Regions from separate parts of the Homo sapiens genome. Here region 2 is linked to region 1. Evidence: fine-mapped expression QTL. A gene starts in region 1. The other region holds a variant in brackets. All regions are shown on one strand. Distances are from middle to middle.

Region 1 (10,429 bases):
GTGCCTAACTGTTCTGAGGCCTAACCTTCTGGCCTAATGGTTAAGAATGTGGGTTCTGACATTCATCTGCTAAGGTCTGAATCTTGACATTGCCATTCCCTAGCTGTGGTATTGGGACAACCCTGTAATATCTGTGCCTAGGTTTCCTTTTCTGTAAATAGGGATATTCATAATTGTTGTTAGGATGAAATAAATGAAATAATGTATATAAAGTGCTTAGTGCCTTACACATACTAGAACCCTAATAAGTGCTAGCTGTTATCAGCATTATTAACCTGTCTCTTAACCCTACTCTCAAAGAACAGAGTGTTGAAGGGTGGGCTTCCCTGTTATATCAGCCTTAAATTAAAAAGTAGCCCTAATATCCTAGTCTCCTATGATCACTATTTCAGAGTTGGTCATCAGTGAATTAAACTCTTGAATAAAATTACATTTTGGTCTCATTAATGCAGCCCAAGACAGCTAGGATGAATATAATTAGAGCCACAATTAGACAGTGAGGCAGGCCAACAGTTTCCAAATATTTAAGAGTACACGAACCTAAAATGCACAGCCTGTTACAGAAGCAAGCAGATAACCAAGCAACTTAAGCAGCCTTACAGAGCAGTCAGTCAACGTCTCTACAAAGCCTTTTTAGATGTCTGCCCACAGAAAGAATCCAAATTTAATTCCTAAGCTTTGCCAGATTTCAACCAAAAGCTGAAAAATGTGTAGACCTCATGTTGGAAGTCAAGACATGAATCGAAATCTTGGCTTCTCCCTTTACTGGAGAAAAGAAGAAAGACAAGTTACTGTGCTCCTATTACATACATTCTAGACGACTCTTTTTATACATTATCTCACCTAATCTCTATGACAATACCAATAAGTAGGTCTTATTTCCATATTATGACAAATGAAGATGGATAAGTAAATTTCCTAAGGTCAATCAACTAGTTAGTGACAGCTGTGAGATTTGATCTTAGGTCTGACTATTGCTCAGTTGAGAGTTCACTTATGTCAGTATGATCATAAATTACATAACGTATTTGCTTGTTTTTTAATTTGTAACAAAAGGATGGATATACTGTACTGGGTTGTCATGAAAATTAAATGACGTGGAAATCTCTAGCTAGGTGCTTCCGCAGTTCACCATTGTGGAATCTGAATACTGAGAGACAAGGCTAGCCTTGTAAAAAAAACTGTGAGGCAGTAGAAGTATGTCCTCTTGTTGACCACAGCTTTCCTTTCTATCTAACCATTAGCTTTCGTGCTCTTTTTACTCTCAAACATAACCCGTAATAATTATCTTTTCCTGATAGCAGGAAATCTCTCAGGAGATGCTCTCAGGAAAAGATAAATATTATGGGTAAAGATCCCTCGACTTGTCACCACTCCCAGGGAAAAATGGATATTGTTGAAGGGCAAAAGGTCTTAAGCTCTATTTTTATAATTTCTGGCTTATGGGAACTGGTGGAGTAACATTTTAGAGACCAGGTAGTAGAGCCTCCGTGTGCCTCCGAAATAATTACCAGCAATCAAAAAACTATTATAGGCCCAGGCCTCACGCCTGTAATCCCAGCACTTTGGAAGGCGAAGGCGGGAGGATCGCTTGAAGGCAGAAGCTCGAGATCAGCCTGAGCAACACAGCGAGGACCCATTTCTATTAAAAAAAAAAGAAAAGAAAATAGCTCATAGCTATTTTTGAGACCTTGGGCTGCTGACTCGATTTCTGAAAACAGCTGCAATCCCCAGTTTGGGATTAGTTGAAGACCCAAACAAGGTGCATGTCGACACTGGGCTCAAGGTAGGGTGTGTGGCATATATGACAATACGGATGTTCAGAAGTGACAACTTAAATCACCGCTTGTTGTTCTCCCCTTACATCACCCGGGGGCAAATGGATTAAAGCGACAGAAAGGGGAGTGAAAGCCCCAGCGGAGGGCTTAGGCTCTACTTGCAGATCCAAGACGCATATTCTGTCCCCCTCCCAGTCGGTGAAAGCTCTTCACCCCTTTCACCTCCCTCTCCCTCTGGGTCTCTTAAACTCCGCCACCCTTTCCCTCCCCTGCGTCTCGCCAGGGACCTCCTCACTCCTTAGTCCAGGGCTTCGCCGCCAGGATTTCTTGCTGCTGTTTCTTGTCGTATTTGTAGATTTCATCGATACTCTGAGCTTCCTGCATGTTGTTGGCCAGTTCCCAGGTTTTCTGGGCCATACCGCTCCCGGACGCCGCCATCGCCGAGGAAGCGGAGAAGTTGTCGTCTCTACAACCAAGACGCAACTTTACCTCGCTAGGTTTCCGGGTGTGGGCCTTGACCCTCCGCACCACGGGAACAAACTCTTACCTAGACTCTTGGGGCAGCCATGACACCTAGAACCGGAGGTGAAGTTGGTAGAGACCATTCAGGGAAGACAGGGACCTTTCCGGGACATGACGATATAAACAGCAGTTACAGTAATAGCGAGAGACGAATCTTCTTGTTGCTTAAATGAGAACATCTTGTCTCGGAAAATTATATGTGTGAAATAGAACAAACAAAGTTATAGGGTATGGGAGTGGTATAGTCTTCCGCACCGGAAGAAGGGCATGTAACGTTATTCCAGAAACTGGTATTTGCCTTCTCTGCTTCTAATGCGCAGGCTCGGCCTCCGCCATATTAAAGGTAGCTGGAGCCTTAAGAGCGGGATGTGGAGGGCGGAAAGTGTTTTTGTGTGGGTATAGGTACCTTAAATGAGATAAGTTTGTTGAAAGACTAAAAGGTAAGGCTGTCTGTTGTACAACTGAGCTAAAAGTCGTTCTGGAAGCTGGTTGAGAGGAAGATAAACATGGCATTCCCGTTTACTTCAAGATGACTCACTGTACATGCGTAAAAGCTAACGGGCTCGTGGTGGCTTGGCACTTCACTTGCAGATGGGCTTTTTCTATCGATGCGAGGAGGCAGTGGGTACTCCTTGATTGCTTTTTTGCGCTTTGGTAAAAGTTAACATCTACGTATATATAATGTGCCATTACTGATCTGAAAATGTCCAGTACTCAGTTCTCGTAACAGGTTACAGTTAAATCTTTGGCACTCCTGTGAACCGCATTTGTTCCCAAAGCGTAATTAATCTGGGTAACTGGTTTGTTTTCTTCCTACAGTTAATACAATGTTTAATTTTTTTATTAGTTCACGTGTTTTAGGTTTTCTTTTTTCTCCATCTCATTCTTCCATCCGTGCAAGATTTTAAGTTTCAAGACACAGGGAGCAGGTCTGCGTTCCTTGTTTTATCTCCTAGCACCTAGCATAGGTGTTCAAGATTTTTTTTTCTTTTATTTCCTGAAAAGATAGCATGACAGGCCAGGCGCGGTGGCTCACGCCTGTAATCCCAGCACTTTGGGCAGCCGAGGCGGGCTGATCACTTGAGGTCGGGAGTTCAAGACCAGCCTGGCCAACATGGTGAAACCCCGTCTCTACTAAAAAAATACAAAAAAAAATTAGCCGGGCGTGATGATGTGCGCCTGTAGTCCCGGCTACTCATGAGGCTGAGGCAGGAGAATCGTTTGAACCCAGGAGGCGGAAGTTGCAGTGATCCGAGATTGCGCCACTCCAGCCTGTTAGACAGAGCCAGTCTCAAAAAAAAAAAAAAAAAAAAAAAGAAAGAAAGAAAGAAAAAAGAAGAAAAAAGAAAAGATAGCACCACAGCTGTTAACAACCTGGCCCCTATGCACCTCTTCCAGCTTCATCTCTTTTTAGTCCCCCCTTGAAACTTTTCATTCTAGCAATGCAGATATCTTTACTTTGGCTTTGCATATGTGGTCAGCATTGCTTGAAACGCTCTTTCGTAAATTTTCTGCCTGGGAACTCCTATTAATCTTTAAAAATGCAGTCCAGTGAGATCGACCACGAACTCTTTCTTGACGCTCCAATTACCATTCCTTCCATTATGTCTGTAAGTCTCCGTAGGTGCTTCTATAACTGTTACAATGCGTTGTAATAATCAGTTAAGACAAAAACATTAGAATTATTGAATCCACACCACAGCTTGCTGTTTTGGCACTGACTTTCCGTTGAAGAAAATTTCCTTTAAAACCATCTTACAAAGAAATTTAGGGTAAAATAGTACATTAATACCTACCCTTAGTTCCACTCTCCTGGGAAACTAGAGGTCTCTTTTCTAGTGGTAGCATATGGCCATATGCGATTGTATTGGGGTGAACTGAATAATATGTTGAAAATGGTAATGAAAGCCCAGGACCCAACGTTGACCACACTCCTGGGCTAGGAGTAATGCCCTGAGAGGTATGCCAACACTTTTCCTCTCACTACCACCCCTCCCCATTTTTCTTTCCAGGCTCTTACACTGTTCCTAAGCTGGCTGGTGCATGGGAGGCTGGAGAGGCTGCAATAGATTTAGCCTGAGAAGTGGCCCCCACAGTTTAATAGCCCCTGGGCACAGCAGGAGAACGAGTTGACCAAGTCCCCGGCCAGCGTACTGGCGAACCGAGAGCAGCGGGCAGCTATGCGGCCTCCAGGACAGCAGGGGGCGATGTCTTGCCGCGCGGCCGCCTGCAGTGGGGGCGGGGCCGTACCCGGCGGTTGGCGAAGGGCGAGCGGAGGGCTGGGCCTGAGGGGCGGAGCCCCGGCCCGGAGGTCTGTCATGCTGTTCCCGCTCCAGGTGGCCGCTGTAACCTCTTCGGTCCGCGACGATCCTCTAGAGCACTGTGTGTCTCCCCGGACGCGAGCCCGCTCCCCTGAGTAAGAGTCAGCCAGCCGCGGATGGGGAGCGTGAGTGGCGAGGTGTGGCCTGGGGTGGTGTAGGTTGAGGGTGGAGGGTCCTGGGGCTGCATTCGCTGCCCCGGAGCGGGGGCAGGGGCAGTGGCTCCCTCGGGGCGTAGGTCTCGAGGCAACTAGGCCGGCGACGTGCCAGAGTTACAGGCTCTGGAATCTGGGGGTGGGGGTGGGGTTTCTTGTCGGCAGGGGGTCTCGTGGCGGCTGGGTGCGGTGGGGGAGGTGCCCGAGTTAAGGGTGTGGAGAGTTGGGATTTCGCCGCCGTGAGGCCGGCATCGGTGACTACGAGTTATGAGGGTTGGGGGCGGGAGTTCTGTGAGCAGGGGTCTTGCAGCTGCCGGGGTCGGGGAGGTTCCCTGGTTACACGGTCCGGATTCCTGGGCCACTGCGGTCGCTGCTGCCCGCGGTGTTGTTGATAGCTGGTTGCCTGACGACGCTTCCTAGTCAGCCACCTCCAGGGCCCGGGGGCGAGCGGTTCCTTGGTTCCCATGCGCCTTCTCTCCCCAACGGCCAGGCCCCCCCTGCTCCGTCAAGCCTCCCCGAGCGCCTTTCTTGCCCCTCGGTGCTTGTTATTGTTAACGTGGGAGCGCTTGTGCGCACTGCTTTGCTAGTAAAACTTATTTAATCTTCACCGTAGCTCGTAGCTCGTACTGTTGTGACCGTATTTCCCCCCGTGATTGCCCGACTGCTTGAGCTTGAACCTCTTGTTTCTAACTGCCTTGATTTTAGGAATCTTATGTGGGACTCAAATCCAGTTGTCAGTACATGTTATTAATGGGACTCATCTTTTGAGAGAGGCTAGCTCTCAAGATTGTAGGATTAAGACGCTTAACTAGGATTGCGGGGAAGACTAAATTCTGAAGTAAACCATCACCTACTTTCCAAACACCTTGGAAAATGCAGGGGCTTAAAAGCAACCGATAGGAATTTATAAAAAGCCTAAATTAGGCTTTATTCTGTGTGAAGGAATGACTTGTAATGTTGACAAGCTCCATGGAAGCTATTGAGGTATTTTCTTTTCTCCATATCATTCTTCTCCCTAGGAGGTCGCTAGCTTTCTGGTGATTAAATGTCTGCTGAAATGCTCCACAAGGATCAAGTTTTTTTGTTTGTTTGTTTTGTTTTGTTTTTGGAGACAGGGTCTCGCTCTGTTGTACAGGCTGGAGTGCAGTGGCATTAGTAGAGAAGGGGGTTTCACCTTGTTGGCCAGGCTGGTCTCGAACTCCTGACCTCAAGTGATCCGTTTGCCTCGGCTTCCCAAAGTGCTGGAATTACGGCCCTGAGCCATTGTGCCCGTTCAAGTTTGGGTCTTCTGCCAGATGGCCGCCTGGGAGGGAGTGGGTGAGTTTAGACAGAGTAAATTGAAACAGGCTACTTTCGGTACAGTTTTTCTCAGATGAAGCTTTCAGACAAATATGAATTAACTGTTACACATTTGAGCAGATTTCAGATTATCCTTTTAACATCATTCTGACTTAGGTTCTGATGTACTTTCCTGAGTGGCAGGCAAGGGTGTTTGAGCAAGTGTTTCAGCAATTTGGCATAACCCAAAGGCTAATTTATGCTACTGCCGTTAATCACCATTAAGGGTGTATTATTAATAGCTACTGAAAGACTTCAACATGGTTTTATATATTTATTCACTCTCTCTTTGTATCCTGTCTCCCAGCCTCCCTCTCTTTCCCCCAGCAACAGTATTTACATCTTAGCAATATTTAGGGAAATTTGTCAAAATTTTGGTGTACCCATGGGAGGAAGTTGCTCATGTGGATGCCATCTGCCAGGAGGAAGATGGAGAACCTTTCATTCGGTAGATGGATCTCTGGATGGATGAGAAGTGAGAAACATTGTCCTGGTCACTTTGTCCCTCCCTTTCTTCTAAAGCTCTTTCACTGGCCCCTCCCCCCACCGCACATGTTATCACACTTTGACACCTGTTCTAGGTCCTGTTCCCCTACTCTAGGGTCTCTTTTTCCAGACAAAACTCTTCTCCCACAGCCTTAATGATTATTTTAAACACTGCTAGATCTTTATTTCCAGCCTGGGTTCTATTCTGAGTTGTAGACATTTTCAGATTGATTTCTTCGTATCTCCGGTGTATCCATTATGGATATCTCACATTCAGCTCCTAAACCCCTGTCAGCCTCTGTAGCAGGGGGCATTATCTTGTCCAAATTTGAGGACAAGAATCATGTTTATATATATACATATATATACACACACACATATATACACACATATATATTTGTTTTTTGTTTGTTTGTTTGTTTGTTTTTTGAGACAGAGTCTCACTCTGTTACCCATGCTGGAGTGCAGTGGTGTGATCTCGGCTCACTGCAACCTCTGCTTCCCATTTTCAAGCAATGGTTCTGCCTCCTGCTACACCCAGCTAATTTTTTTATTCGTAGTAAAGATGGGGTTTTGTCATGTTGGCCAGCCTGGTCTCAAACTCCTGACCTCAAGCGATCCGCCCGTCTTGGCCTCCCAAAGTGCTGGGATTACAGGCGTGAGCCACGGTGCCCAGCCACATTTTATATTTTTGACTACGCCAGCCTCTAGCACAATGTCATGCTTTAGGAGGGAAGTCATTTTCCATTTCTCATGCTCCCATAGTGGGGAGGAAATTTGTACTCCACTCCTTGAGAGGGAAAAGGATAGGAGCAACATTTTCCCATCTTTTTGTGACTGATGGATTTGGGAGAAGGAATTGGGCAAACTCAGTTTTAACTGGGTTCTGTTTGTTTATTGGATTTGACTAGACTTAGCAGAATGGGTATGCTCTGGTCTGCTTATATCTATATGATAAGCATAAAGAGCCAAAGGTTAAGGTTTAGAGATGTTGGTGTGGATTATGATAACCAAGTATCAATTATTGATTATTTAAATCTCAGCATACTTTACGTTTGCAGGCTCTGTTTTTTTTGTTTGTTTGTTTGTTTGTTTTGGTTTTTGAGACAAGAGTCTCGCTCTGTCACCTAGGCTGGAGTGCAGTGGCACGATCTCAGCTCACTGCAAGCTCTGCCTCCCAGGTTCACTCCATTCTCCTGCCTCAGCCTTCTGAGTAGCTGGAACTACAGGCGCCTGCCACCAAGCCTGGCTAATTTTTTGTACTTTTAGTAGAGACGGGGTTTCACCGTGTTAGCCAGGATGGTCTTGATCTCCTGACCTCGTGATCCGCCCGCCTCGGCCTCCCAAAGTGTTGGGATTACAGGTGTGAGCCACAACGCGCGGCTGCAGGCTCTGTTTTTAAGAGGTAAATCTTCATATATGCAAAGACTGTAAAGATACAACCATAAACAATAAAAGAATTGATCTGTTGATTTCTTTTTTTTTTTTTTTTGACAGAGTATTGCTCTGTCATCGAGGCTGTAGTACAGTGGCGTGATCTGGGCTCACTACAGCCTCTGCTTCCTGGGTTCAAGCAATTCTCCTGCCTCAGCCTCCTGAGTAGCTGGGACTACAGAGGTGTGCCACCATGCCTGGCTAATTTTTGTATTTTTAGTGGAGATGGGTTTTGCTGTGTTAGCCAGACTGGTCTCAAACTCCTAACCTCAGGTGATCCACTCTCCTTGGCTTCCCACAGTGCTGGGATTACAGGCATGGGCCACTGCGCCTGGCCTGATCTGTTGATTTCTAAGTGTTAGGTTCTCTGTCATAATTTTTATATGCATTATTTTCTTTTTTCTTCATAATATACTAGAATAAATGATATTTCTGTTTTATAGATTAGGCATAGAGCAGTTAAGGAACATGCTTGAGGTCATTCATGTTGAGATCAATAAGTGATAGAAGTATATTTCAAACTCAGTTCTTTCAATTAAACTATTTTCCTGAAAACTGTTTATCATCTACATACTATGTACACAGCTACTGGAGAAATAATACTTGGCCATGATGTCTTGAAAAAAGTTGTGAGTGACTTTATATTGTAGAGTGTCATATATAAATAATCTCATTTAGGTTTCTTTCAGCTGATTTATTTTTGGCAACTTAATCCTTAAATTATAAACTTTCTTACTCTATATTGTACCTATGCCATATTTATTAACCCAGTCTCTGTGATTCACCAAGTAATTCTTGAATAATTGTGTAGTTGAAATATGTTTTCTGTAAGTTACCACATGCTTTTAGGAGTGAGAAAAAGAAAAGTGGCCGTGATATCTAGAAACTGGTATTGCTAGAAACTAGCCTGGCATTCACAGTAACTTTGTGTTTTTCTGTTGAAGATAAACTATTGTACAGAATGTCAACATCAGATAAGGCCGCTCTGTGTCTATGATGGATCAAGACAAAAACATTCCATCAGTGTCTCCAAACACAGACAAAACGTAAATATTGTCCAAGAACCGAGATACCAAACATTCCCTTTCCCAGCTGATGTGAATGACTACTGCTTGTTTACCAGTTACAGCATTAGCCTCCCCCTATATTTTAGATTTATTGAGTGGTACCATCATAGAATTAACCCCACTTCTAACAGTGTTCAATCCTGAGCAAAGCTCCACTTCCTCAAATTAAGCCTTCCCCCAAATCACCCAACACATATAAGTCTTTTCCAATACCCTCTTACCACGATACCACAGGGTTCCCCATGGTGTGTGTTCTCCGTGCATTCCTTAATGCAATGAGTAGTACATCCAACTTAACTGTGGTAGTTTTCCTGGTGTTCTTTGGCTGGAGATCATTACCAGGAGAAAGCTCATTAGTGTCTTTGACTCTTTAATATTAAAGTCATTATAATCTAATCAGATTAGATACAGGAAAAATTTAGAAATGATTAGAAATGTACTTATATCTCGGATAAATCTTATGTTTTAGTTATGGCATATGCTATATTTACTATGGTTGTTTAAAAGTATGTTTTATTTGTACTTTTTGTACTTTTGATTACTGTAAGTTAAAATCAGTTCTATAATTTATAATGTTAAATAATTACAGTAAAGAGAAAGATAAGCATCTATAAATTCAAGAGGGAGATCTTTCAAAGCCTGGTTAGAACAACATGTAAATGAACATGTTAAATTAATAATTGTTATTAGGTGGTATGGAAACCTTAGTTCCATGTGAAGGTGGCATGTTACTGTTTTTTTTTTCTTTTTAGATAAATGACATTTCTTTTTTTTCTTTTCTTTCTTTTTTTTTTTTTTGAGATGGAGTCTCACTCTGTTGCCCAGACTGGAGTGCAGTGGCATGATCTCGGCTCACTGCAACTTCCACCTGCCTGGTTCAAGCGATTCTCCTGCCTCAGTGTCCCCCGGTAGTTGGGATTACAGGTATATACCACCATGCCTGGCTAATTTTTGTATTTTTAGTAGAGACGGGGTTTCGCCATATTGGCCAGGCTGGTCTCGAACTCCTGACCTCAGGTGATCCACCTGCCTCACACTCCCAAAGTGCTGGGATTACAGGCGTGAGCCACCGCCCCCAACCTAGATAAATGACATTTCTGTTTAAATTCTGTGCAAAATTCTATAGCAAAATATATGCGTTATCTCATCATTTTATTCCTATCAGACATAGAATATTTAGGGAAGATTAGAGGATTTTGAGGATTGATTGTTTTAAACATGAAAACTTGTTTGCTGTTGAGTTCAGAATTTTTACTAGGAAAAATCTTTCGTGACTATTAGCAAATTAAAAATGGCTGAAATAAGTCGGGACGGTGGCTCACACCTGTAAT
Region 2 (10,429 bases), 880 kb before region 1:
AAAAGGCTTAAACTGCTTGACTACAGGGCTAAATTCATTAGTTACATGTTTTCATTGGTCAATATTGAGTCTGTAAAAAAAAACTCGTTCATTTCACCTCCAAATACTATCAACATCCATAATAGTATCCACATCTGGGCCACCCAGGGTGGTTCTTTTTAATTATTTCTTTTTCCAAATCCAAATGTGCTTCATGTCAGCCTGTTAAATAAATAAATGCTCTCTGACATGTCGCAGAATGGAATGGAATGCTAAGCCTGTAAAACTATATTCAATTTTTGATTAATTGACACTATCATATAGGTGGGAGGCAGTTACCTCTAATTCTGCAATTCAAAATGCAATTCCAAGTTCTTGTGCCTGTGATTCAATTCAGCTTCCAGATAACCATCAGAGTTGTTTATCGGAAATTTCCTGCTCCTCATTTCTGATTACTTCTGCTGCTTCCTTTGTAGCTAATGTGACAAATGATGCAATGCATATTTCAACTTCCATTTTGGGTCTATACCAATCCACAACTGCTCTTAGGAACAAAGGGAAGGCAGGGAGAGAAATGTTGACAGTTTGCAGAGAAGCCAGCCCATAGTTGGATCACTGCACCATGTTATGTACTTTTGACATAAGAGAACAGAGAGAATGTGCCTACTTGGAAAGATGTGAGTTGTTAATAGAAGATCATGATTATGGAAAATGGTTGAGTTTCTGGGAGAAAGCTGTGTTTTATATTGGTAGGAAAGCACACAGAACCTTAGATTTTGTTATTGTGGGCTTTTTTTTTTTTTATTAAGCTGGAATGGGTTCAACATTTTTGCTTACTTTCCTTTATGAACTGTTTTCTGACCCTGTTAGCAGATTTCAGCTTGGATGTCAATCTGGAGGTGAAACGTTGACTTGGAATAGGAAGTTTCAGTGCAGTAAATGGACACAGAAGATAAACTAGGAAAGGGATGTGGTTATGAGTTTAGCTGGGGAGGTCTGGGAGGTTCTTCCAGAGAAGACACAACAAGTTTTGGGCTCTGACTAAACCCATGCCCATACAAATCTCTCTCCCATTGGGCTATCTGGGGGATATTGTTTTAGTATAGCTCCCTCATCACTGTTGAGTCCTTGCTGTGAGGTTTTCTTGGGGTAAGTCATTAATAGAGCCAAAGTGGCTCCAACTAGGGAGTAAGGAAAAAAATGTTCCTGAACCCCAGAGGAAGAGAAGCTATGCACAGCCACAATTTATCTGTATTTGTCTGTTCTCACACTGCTAATAAAGACATACCTGAGACTGGGTAATTTATAAAGGAAAGCAGTTTAATGGACTCACATTTTCACATGGTAGGGGAGGCCTCACAATCATGGCAGAAGGCAATGGAGAAGCAAAGACACGTCTTACATGGTGGCAGGCAAGAGAGAGCATGTGAAAGAGAACTCCCCTTTCTAAAACCATCAGATCTGATGAGACTTATTTACTATCACAAGAACAGCATGGGAACAACCCACCCTTATGATTCAGTTACCTCCCACCAGGTCTCTCCCACAACACGTGGGAATTATGGGGGCTACAATTCAAGATGAGATTTGGGTGGGGACACAATCTAACCATATCATTATCCAAAATGTATATCTCATTAAATCACGCAGTTTTCACATTAGAAATGACTTAAAGAGATCACTTGGTTTAAATGAGAACCAGAGAAGTTAAGTGACTTACCTGAAGTCACTCAGCAAGTTAGTGGTAAAGTGAGAATTAGGAACCAGCTCTTTTGATTGCAAGCCCATATTATTTGCATAATGTAACAATAACCTTTGGACTTTCTTTTCCAGCAGAGGCACACAAACTGAGGTGAAAAGATGAATTTTAAAATATTTTAGAGCTAGAATCTCACTTTCTTGCCCAGGCTGAAGGCACTGTGATACTCACTGCAGCCTAGAACTCCAGGACTCAAGCGATCCTCAGACTCCTGAGCAGTTGGAATTATAGGCATCAATCACCATGCCTGGCCTGAGAAGATGCATTTAGATAAAGTAATATATTCACACACCAATTGTGGAGTAGCTTTTTATACATTTTCCTTATTTGATAAACTAAGGCATGAGAATGCAGAAATTCTCTGTGCATGCTCATGTCTGTGGCACCTGATTTTCAATCTGTGTGTGCATACATTGCAATTTACTTTTCAGTATTACCAAATTAAAAGCATTAATTTGATTATTCTGCCTAGGTGACCTTTGAAAAAAGTGATCTTTGGATACAGTATGGAGGGTGAAAGGGATTCTTAAAATTATAATATAGATCTATGATTTGAGAAATAACATAATGCAGATAACTTAAATGTGCTATAAACTAAATATCCAAATACATAGAAATCACCACTGACAGATCTGATCTTACATGTAAGAATAACTTCTGGAAAGGAGTCATTGGAGAATCAATTTCAATGCTTTTAGAACCTAAAAACACAATCCAAGAAACATGGGCACAAAAACAGGGATTACTTCATGTTTTAAATCATATTTTTCAATGGCTACATAATATACGGTATAGGTAAATTAAAACAGAGCCAACACAACAGTCTAATAAAGAAATATCAGAAATAATAGGTAACTAGTGGGCATATTTTTGTCACTTGTATCACCTTGTACCTTCACAAGCTTCTATTAGCACAGCTCGTGGTGAACAAACACCATCTCCAAGTTGGCTAACAGAAACATTTGTTGAAATGAATCTACTGTTTCCAATGAGAGCCTTCAGAAATGCCTAGGGTGGACAGGTGGTTTGGTAATTGTTTGTAACTGTTCTTTAGATAGATTAAGTAACTGCCTTCTGCTTCCACAGGAGGACTGAGGAAAGGCCCTCAAACAGCAAAATATCTAACTGCTTCACTGGCAACAATAACTTCTGTTAGTCTCTTCTGATTATCAAAGCCATATGTGCTCTTTGCAGAAAACTTAGAAAAATCAGAAAAGCATAAAGAATATAAAATTCCTCAGAATATCTGAATCTAAAGATCATCACAGATAATTAATATTTTGTTGTTTCCCTTGAGCATTTTTCCTGAGCTCATAATCATAATTTTGATAACACCATGTTCTTAATACTGAATCTCTGCTTAAAAAAAAAACTCTCATTTTAACATTTAAAATAATTGAGAGAGTAAATTTTAAATGTTCTCATCACCAGAAATTGGTAAGTAAGTGAGGTAATGGATATGTTGATAACTTGATTTAGCCATTCCACAATATACGCATATATCAAAACATGTCATACACCATAAACATATACAATTTTTATTTGTCAATTTACATTAATTAATTAATTCATTGCAAAATAATTTGTTGAAGAAATCTTCCCCAGATTCCTATATTAGGTTCAGCACCTGTGCTTCATATTTTCCTAATAGCATGAATGTCCTTCATTGTAAAGCTCACATTTTGTTATAGTTACTGGTACAATATGTACCTCCTTTGCTGGACAGTAAACTGTGTAGCAGGGCTTTGATCATCTTTGTAAGTTGCCATATCCATTTCTCTTGCCCCAAACATGGTAGATTTCCAGTAAGCCTGTTGAATGAATGAAATGCAGAAAATCTGTTGAATGAATGAAGTATAAAAATTACCCATAAACTGTACATATTATCCAGACATAACTAAATAACATTTTATAGTTAAAATTTTATAATCTACTTTTTTCCATTTAAAATTATATCTCAAGCATTTTCCTATATCCAAGTGAAATCCTTTTTTTATTGCATGGTATTGCATCAATATGTGCCAAATTTTCTATTCATTCTTCATTGTTGATCACTGCCCTAATGACCTGCTTTTTATTCTTTTTCATCTTACCCTTGCACTTTTAAGTAATATACCCACAGAATTATTTCTTGAGTCTTCAAATATAAACAATATCTCTTAACTCCCAGATTGTAAGATGAGATTATTTATCCCTTCAACTTTTCAGACACCCTCCTGCACCTTGATCTCTCAGTCTCTTTCATCTATACTTCTACTTCTAGATTGTCCGTTAATTATTTTTATAATCATAGTTAAATCTCCCATGCTTTTATGCTTTTACTATAATTGATTCTACACTTGATCTTAGCCAAAGGGCCAAGAAGCTCTAGATAGATATAGATAGACAGATGA[TGATAGATA/T]GATAGATAGATAGATAGATAGATAGATAGATAGATAGATAGATTCTAAAAGTAGGAAGTCAATATAGTTTTTAATTATTGACTATGAAAGTTGTTCACTGAAGAATAAGATCATAGACTCTGATTACATTTCCTATCTTGTTTTTTTTTCTACAATTTTCAATTGACACTTTTATATTTTTTATAATCCCAGTTTGGTTTTTTCCTAGAATTACGAACTGCCTTAATTTTGTTCTCATATTTTTTCAAATTTTCAATCATGATAAGTAATCTATTAAGTCCTCCCCCTCTTTTTAAGACCTTGATCCTTGAGCATGCTAACCTGCTGCTTTCAAACTAGTTACTTTCTAAATCTGATGCATAGGTTTCTTCCTGGGACTTCTCTTTTCTTCTTCCCTGGATTGAATTCCCTGTCCGGAATCACAGGACTTTTTCCCTTTTGATTTCTGAATTTTATTTTGCTGGAGAACATCCTCCGGTAACTTTCTAGGAAAGGATGTATGAGAAGCATGTTTTCTGACTCCTTGCATTCCTGAAAATTGTTATATTTTACCCAGATATTTGAGTGATGCTTTACCAAGGTATATAATTTCAAGTTAAATATAATTCTCTTCTAGAACTTAAAGTATTATTCTCTTGTGTTGTATTATCCAGTGCTGCTGATAAGAAATCCAGTATCATTCTAATTTTCCTTTTATTTCTTTCTTTTTTTTTCATGGAGTCTCACTCTGCTGCCTACGCTGGACAGTGTAGTGGTGCGATCTCAAATCACTGCAATCTCTGCCTCCCAGGTTCAAGCGATTCTCCTACCTCAGCTTCCCAAGTAGCTGGGAATACAGGCATGTGCCACCATGCCTGGCTAATTTTTGTATTTTTAGTAGAGATGGAGTTTCACCATGTTGGCCAGGCTGGTCTTGAACTCATGACCTCAAGTGATCCACCCACCTCAGCCTCCCAAAGTGCTGGGATTACAGGAGTGAGCCACCATGCCCAGCCTGATTCTCATTTTTCATAGGACCTTTTTTCTTATTCTCTCTTGAAGCTTTTAGTCTCTTCTTTTTTTGTTGATGTTCTGAAATTTTAGAATGGTCTTTGGGTCTTTTTTTCATGTACTCATTTTAATTTTGAGGTTCTTACTCTTCAATGGTGAAAAAAACCTCCTGTATTATTTATATTATAATTTTTTCCATTTTCTCTATTCTTTCTTTTTAGGGATTTCTGTTATGAGATGTTCTCCCCTCTATTGGCCATCTGTGTTTACTATTTTCTGTCATGTTAGAACTTTTAGTTTGCGATTCTGCTTTCTAAGATATTCTTCAATATCTTCCAGCTCTTCAGTTACTTTCATTTTACAACTGTATATTCAACCTCCAGACTTTTTATTCTTTCTCCATTCCTTTTTAATAACTCCTGTTCTTGCTTTACAGTGGAATGTTCTCTCCTATTTCTTTAAGAATGTTAACTAGAAGGTTTCTAAGTTTTCTTTCTTTCCCTGAATTATCTCTTCCATCTGTGGTCATTTAAAAATCTTTATTTATCTTAATTTCTCAATTTTATGCTGGAGATCTTTGTGAAATCCCTGAAGGCGACCCTGTGTATGATTGGTAGCACCCTCATGTTTAATAATTATTCAGTACAAAGTTGATGAAGAACTCTATATGCAGGGTAAGGAGCCTGCTTCTCGCCAAGCAGCCTTCCTTCCAGGGTGATCACATGGTGAGCTAGTCTTTACTTGGGATACCCATGAATGTCATATTGTAGAGAATTCCTCTCTGTAGCCATTCAATTTTATTTAAGAAAAATGTATGTATTAGTTTTCTGAGTATGCCATAGCAAATACCAGACTGGATAACTTAAACAGCAGAAATTTATTTTCTCCCTTCTGGAGGCTAGAAGTCCAAGATCAAAGTGTCAACAGAGTTGCTTTCTTCCCAGGCCTCTCTCCTTGGCTTGTGGTTGGCCATCTTCTCCCTGTGCTTTCACACGGCCTTTCCTCTGTGCATGTCCCTGCTTCCATCTTCTCTGCCTACAAAGACATCAGCCATATTGTATTAGGGATAACCCATATGACCTAATTTAACCTTAATTACCTCTTTAAAGGCTCTGTTTCCAAATACAGTTACATTCTGAAATATGAGAAGTTAGGACTTCAACATGTGAATTTTTCTACATCTAGGAGACACATTTAGGCCAATAACAGTATACCTGGCAATGTTTATTTCTTTATTTGCTTGTTGCCTAACAGGCAGACATTTGAATGTCTGGCATTCTTCACATGGGATGAGAAAAGTTGGTGGAGAGGTTGACTCTTCCATATATAAACTTTCAGGTATTCTCCGTATTTTTGACCCTTTTCTCACTCCTGTCTTTGGCGAGACTTGGAGGTTCTGAGCCTTGAGCCCCTCCTAGGCTCTGCAGATGGACTCCTCCCTCAGCTGCCTGCCTCCTACAGCCTCTTCATCTGCATTTTCCTCTGGAGACACAGCATCTTCTCTGTCCTCCTCCTTCCTGTCCCTTTGTGGACCCCTTACAGCTGCTTTCTCTCCCTTTCTTCCTCAAACACCATCTTCTCTGCTCTCATTATTTCAGAAGTTTGCTAAACCCTCTCACTTGCTTACGTTATCCTGTTATTTTCATCATTTGGGTTTATACTATCATTTTAATGGAGTCTCATAGAAATGAGAGGTAAACACACAAGCATTTTGGAAAGACCCCTCTGAATGCAGTATGGAGGGTACATTGGTGGGGCAAGAAGGCAGAAAAGAGACTTATGGTCTTTGGGTTATTAGCCTTGGGCCTCTGCAGAATGAGCATCACAGGCCCAGGATGACAGGAGGTGCGGAAGGCAAGGGCAGCATCCCAGGAGCCCAGGACTCTCTACCAGTGGGCAGCCACATCGCTGTCCACGGTTTGGTGGGGAAAGTTCCCCATCAATCAAAAATTCTGTCAGCACCCATGAGTCATCACTGAGTGTCTTACCTCCTTTCCTGAGAAAATGGCAAGGACTTTGTTACCTGTGCATCTATTTTTCCATAAGTTGAGAAGTAACTGACCCTGGGAAGATGACTCAGAGCATCAGAAAACCAGCACGTTTCTGCTTCTCTTACAAGCCCTGGTCTTGACAGACACGATTGCCCTTTCTATTTACATCATAATACATTGATTGTTCTGTTTGAGACTCCAGGTAATGGATGGAGGGCAGTGAAAGGATGTGTGTGAACTTTCTGTCATGAAAGACAATTTACAGGAACTAATCATCTTACAATTGTTGCTCAGAAAAAAGAAATTCATCAACCAGGCACCCCCAAACAGGTATTTATATTCATGAACATCACTTAACTCTGAAGAAAGAGTTCCTTCCCAAAGAAGCCTCCTAGGAATGTTGCTGGTGTCATAAAAAGGGAAGGGAAAAGTTAAAGAAAACCTAAATTCATATTTTACTGCAGAATTTGTTAGTGTTTTTAAATTTTTATTCAGCAGTGTAAATCCCTAAGTCTTTAGCATTTCCCAGACTCATTTGACCACAGAACATGTATATCATTGGACTAGCTGGGAAATATAATAAGCCCAAAGGCATTTTATGAGGAGTCCAGCTAGACTTTTTTTTCTTTACCATTTGATATTTAAGTTCATGATTAGAGCTACTAGTAATTTTCTACCACTCCAAGGAGAAAATTTTAAATGTCACTGTTTGCCTTTGAAGAGAGGGTCCCAGGGTATGGAAACTTGTCTGTTTTCACTGCTTCTGAGGATTACCTGCCCTGGGAAAGGTCACCTTCAAACAAGAAGCTGCCAAACCTCTGCTTACCATGCATAAAATGGTCAACTCTGTTTGCATAATCACCCTTGAAGGGTGATTATGGCAAACCTATGTCTGAAAAAGAAAGGATCTGATTTTCCACATTCACTATTCTTTTTGCATTTTAGGAGTGATCTGAGCAACAGCATTGTCAGGATAATAGAAAAAGACTTAGCGGCCCTAAGCAGCAGTGATGTTTAATGCCCCTATTCATATAAAGTTAAATATAGATACATATTTGAGCCTCACCTTATTTTCCAACTTGTTTTCTTTGTACTTTAATTCCTAATAGCTATAAAGTTCCTGGTCAGAGGAAGGAGTTGGTCTTTACAGAAATGTAGCCCAGTGGAAATCCATGGACCTACCTTGCAAAGGAGAACCCTCTTAGAGTAGGCAGGCGTGTCCTAGACAAAATTGGTTGCAATGGATGAAGTTGGGCTTTTCATAAGGGAAACTCAGTTATTCAAGAAAGAGCAAGCAATGAGGGCTACAGAGGTGGACAGAAACTTGGGAGGCCAACATTCAGGAGCTGTGGATTTCAAAGATGTTACAGGTTGTGGGTTCAGACCTTTCGCAAACCTTGGAACAAGATCTTTTCATCTTCAAGGCTTCTGTTATCCATCTGTAGAACATTCTTTTCCATTTTGAGAGCTAGTTATTTTTGATCGTGTGTGTGTTTATCTGTCTGTCCTCCAGTTCATTTATGAACTTACCTCCCACTTCTTTTAGTCCATGAATCCTAATATACTGCTTATGCATGGTACATATTTGTTGTTGGGGATTGACTATGTGTGTCCTACTTAGGAGAAAGGCTACATCAATTCAAGATGGTCTTATAACTGTGAAAGCCAATGAGTCCTTGAAGTGTGATTGTGGGAAACCTATGTCTGAAAAAGAAAGGATCTGATTTTCCACAGTCACTATTCTTTTTGCATTTTAGGAGTGATCTGAGCAACAACATTGCCAGGATAATAGGAAAAGACTTAACCGCGCAAAGCAGCAGTGATGTTTAATTCTCCAATTTATATAAAGTTAAATATAGATACATATTTGACCCTCACCTCATTTTTCAACTTGTTTTCTTTGTACTGTAATTCCTAATAGCTATAAAGTTCTGCCTTGTGCTAATGTACTTTTATCTTTCCAGAGAAAATGATACTTGTAATAAAGGGATGTTTTTTATTTGAATGGAGAAATACAATTATATAACCTGATAGATTTATTCTATAAAAGTGCTATTCTGCTTTTTGAAGTAGGACAGTGCCTTGGACTAAATGTTTGTGTGTCCCCAAAATTCATATGTTGAAGCCTAATCCCCAATGTGATGGTATTTGGAGGTGGGGCCTTTGGAAGGTAATTAGGTCATGAGGGTGGAAACCCCATGAGTGGGATTAGTGCCCTTATAAAAAGAGACAGAAGAGATGATCTCTCTTCCTCTTGCCTATGTGAAGATACAGTGAGAAGTCATCCATCTGCAAACTAGGAAGAAGGCCCTCGCCAGACACTGGATCCACTGGCAGCTTGATCTTGGATGTCCCAGCCTCCAGAACTGTGGGAAATAAATGTTTGTTATTGAAGCCACCTAGTCTATGGTATTTTTTTTTTTTTTGGCAGCCCGAACTGATTAAGGTAAGCAGCATATCTGATTCTTGTCTGTAATGGAATTTGTTCTAATATCTTTACTTAAATATTTCACTAAAAACAAAGCACTTCAAAGCAGCTTTACAACACTTTTCTGTGGGGACACACTAGACTTCTAAGTATGACATTTGTCAAGCTACCTGAATACAGGTCTGACTCTTGCTTTCTAGCTGGGTGACCTTGGGCAATTTATTTAAATTTTCCAAACTCATTTCCTTTTTTTTTTTTTGTCAAACCAGTATAAAATGTAAGTCCCCTTATTTGTTTCTCTTGTGGGAGTAAATGAGATAGTGCACTCAGGGCCTAGTTATAAGTATTCAATAAACATTTGTCGTTGTTGTTGGGGTAATGATGTGTTGCTTGGTACTGTTGAAGGTGGCAACTCTGTCTAATCTCAGGTCCTCCAAGCCTACCATTCTGTGCTCAGTCACAATAAGTGTTTATTAATGAAATAAAAGAATAAGATAAATATACTCACTAGGTTTTTCTTCTAATATTAGAAGCTTTCAGCCACCTAGTTGATTGAAGATTATTTTTTTCAATTTATAGACTATTTTATAACAGTGATTTTAGATTGACAGAAAAAATGAGCAGAAAGTAGACAGTTCTGAGAGATTCTTTCTCCCCACCCCATACCACCCCTCCCTTTAGTTTTCCCCTATTATTAACATCTTGCATTTGTTTCAATTGATGAGCCAATATTGATGCATTATTATTAACTAAAGCCCATGGTTTCCATTAGGGTTCACTGTTGGCATTTTATATTCTGTGAGCTTTGACAAATGCATTGTCTCATGTATCCACCATTACAGTATCATACAGAAGAGTTTCACTGCCCTAACTGTCCCCT

Direction of the effects. Positions count from the first base shown, and alleles are read on the strand shown. Sizes are in standard deviations (SD) of each study's normalised expression.
As copies of T replace TGATAGATA in region 2, the expression in monocytes after LPS of the gene that starts at base 4,612 in region 1 goes down (large effect, 0.79 SD a copy in Fairfax 2014).

The links. PIP is the estimated chance that this variant, and not a neighbour inherited with it, causes the effect.
Region 2: its variant is fine-mapped to the expression of CSPP1 in monocytes after LPS (Fairfax 2014, PIP 0.95).

The regions. Positions count from the first base shown.
Region 1 is chr8:67,059,781-67,070,209 of GRCh38, forward strand. It overlaps CSPP1 (centrosome and spindle pole associated protein 1), which reads left to right and starts at 4,612. Exons shown (of 31, transcript NM_001382391.1): 1 at 4,612-4,758. It overlaps COPS5 (COP9 signalosome subunit 5), which reads right to left and starts at 2,353. Exons shown (of 8, transcript NM_006837.3): 1 at 2,074-2,353. The coding sequence starts at 2,216. RefSeq lists enhancers at 2,020-2,109, 2,290-2,559 and silencers at 4,490-4,629, 4,568-4,755.
Region 2 is chr8:66,179,443-66,189,871 of GRCh38, forward strand. It overlaps LOC112268029 (a long non-coding RNA gene), which reads right to left and starts at 7,206. Exons shown (of 4, transcript XR_002956713.2): 1 at 7,119-7,206; 2 at 3,449-3,549; 3 at 2,381-2,439; 4 at 444-518. LOC124901954 (a long non-coding RNA gene) reads left to right here and starts at 6,074. Exons shown (of 2, transcript XR_007060948.1): 1 at 6,074-7,451; 2 at 9,390-9,519. RefSeq lists an enhancer at 7,022-7,632. The variant TGATAGATA/T (reference allele first, on the strand shown) is at 4,132.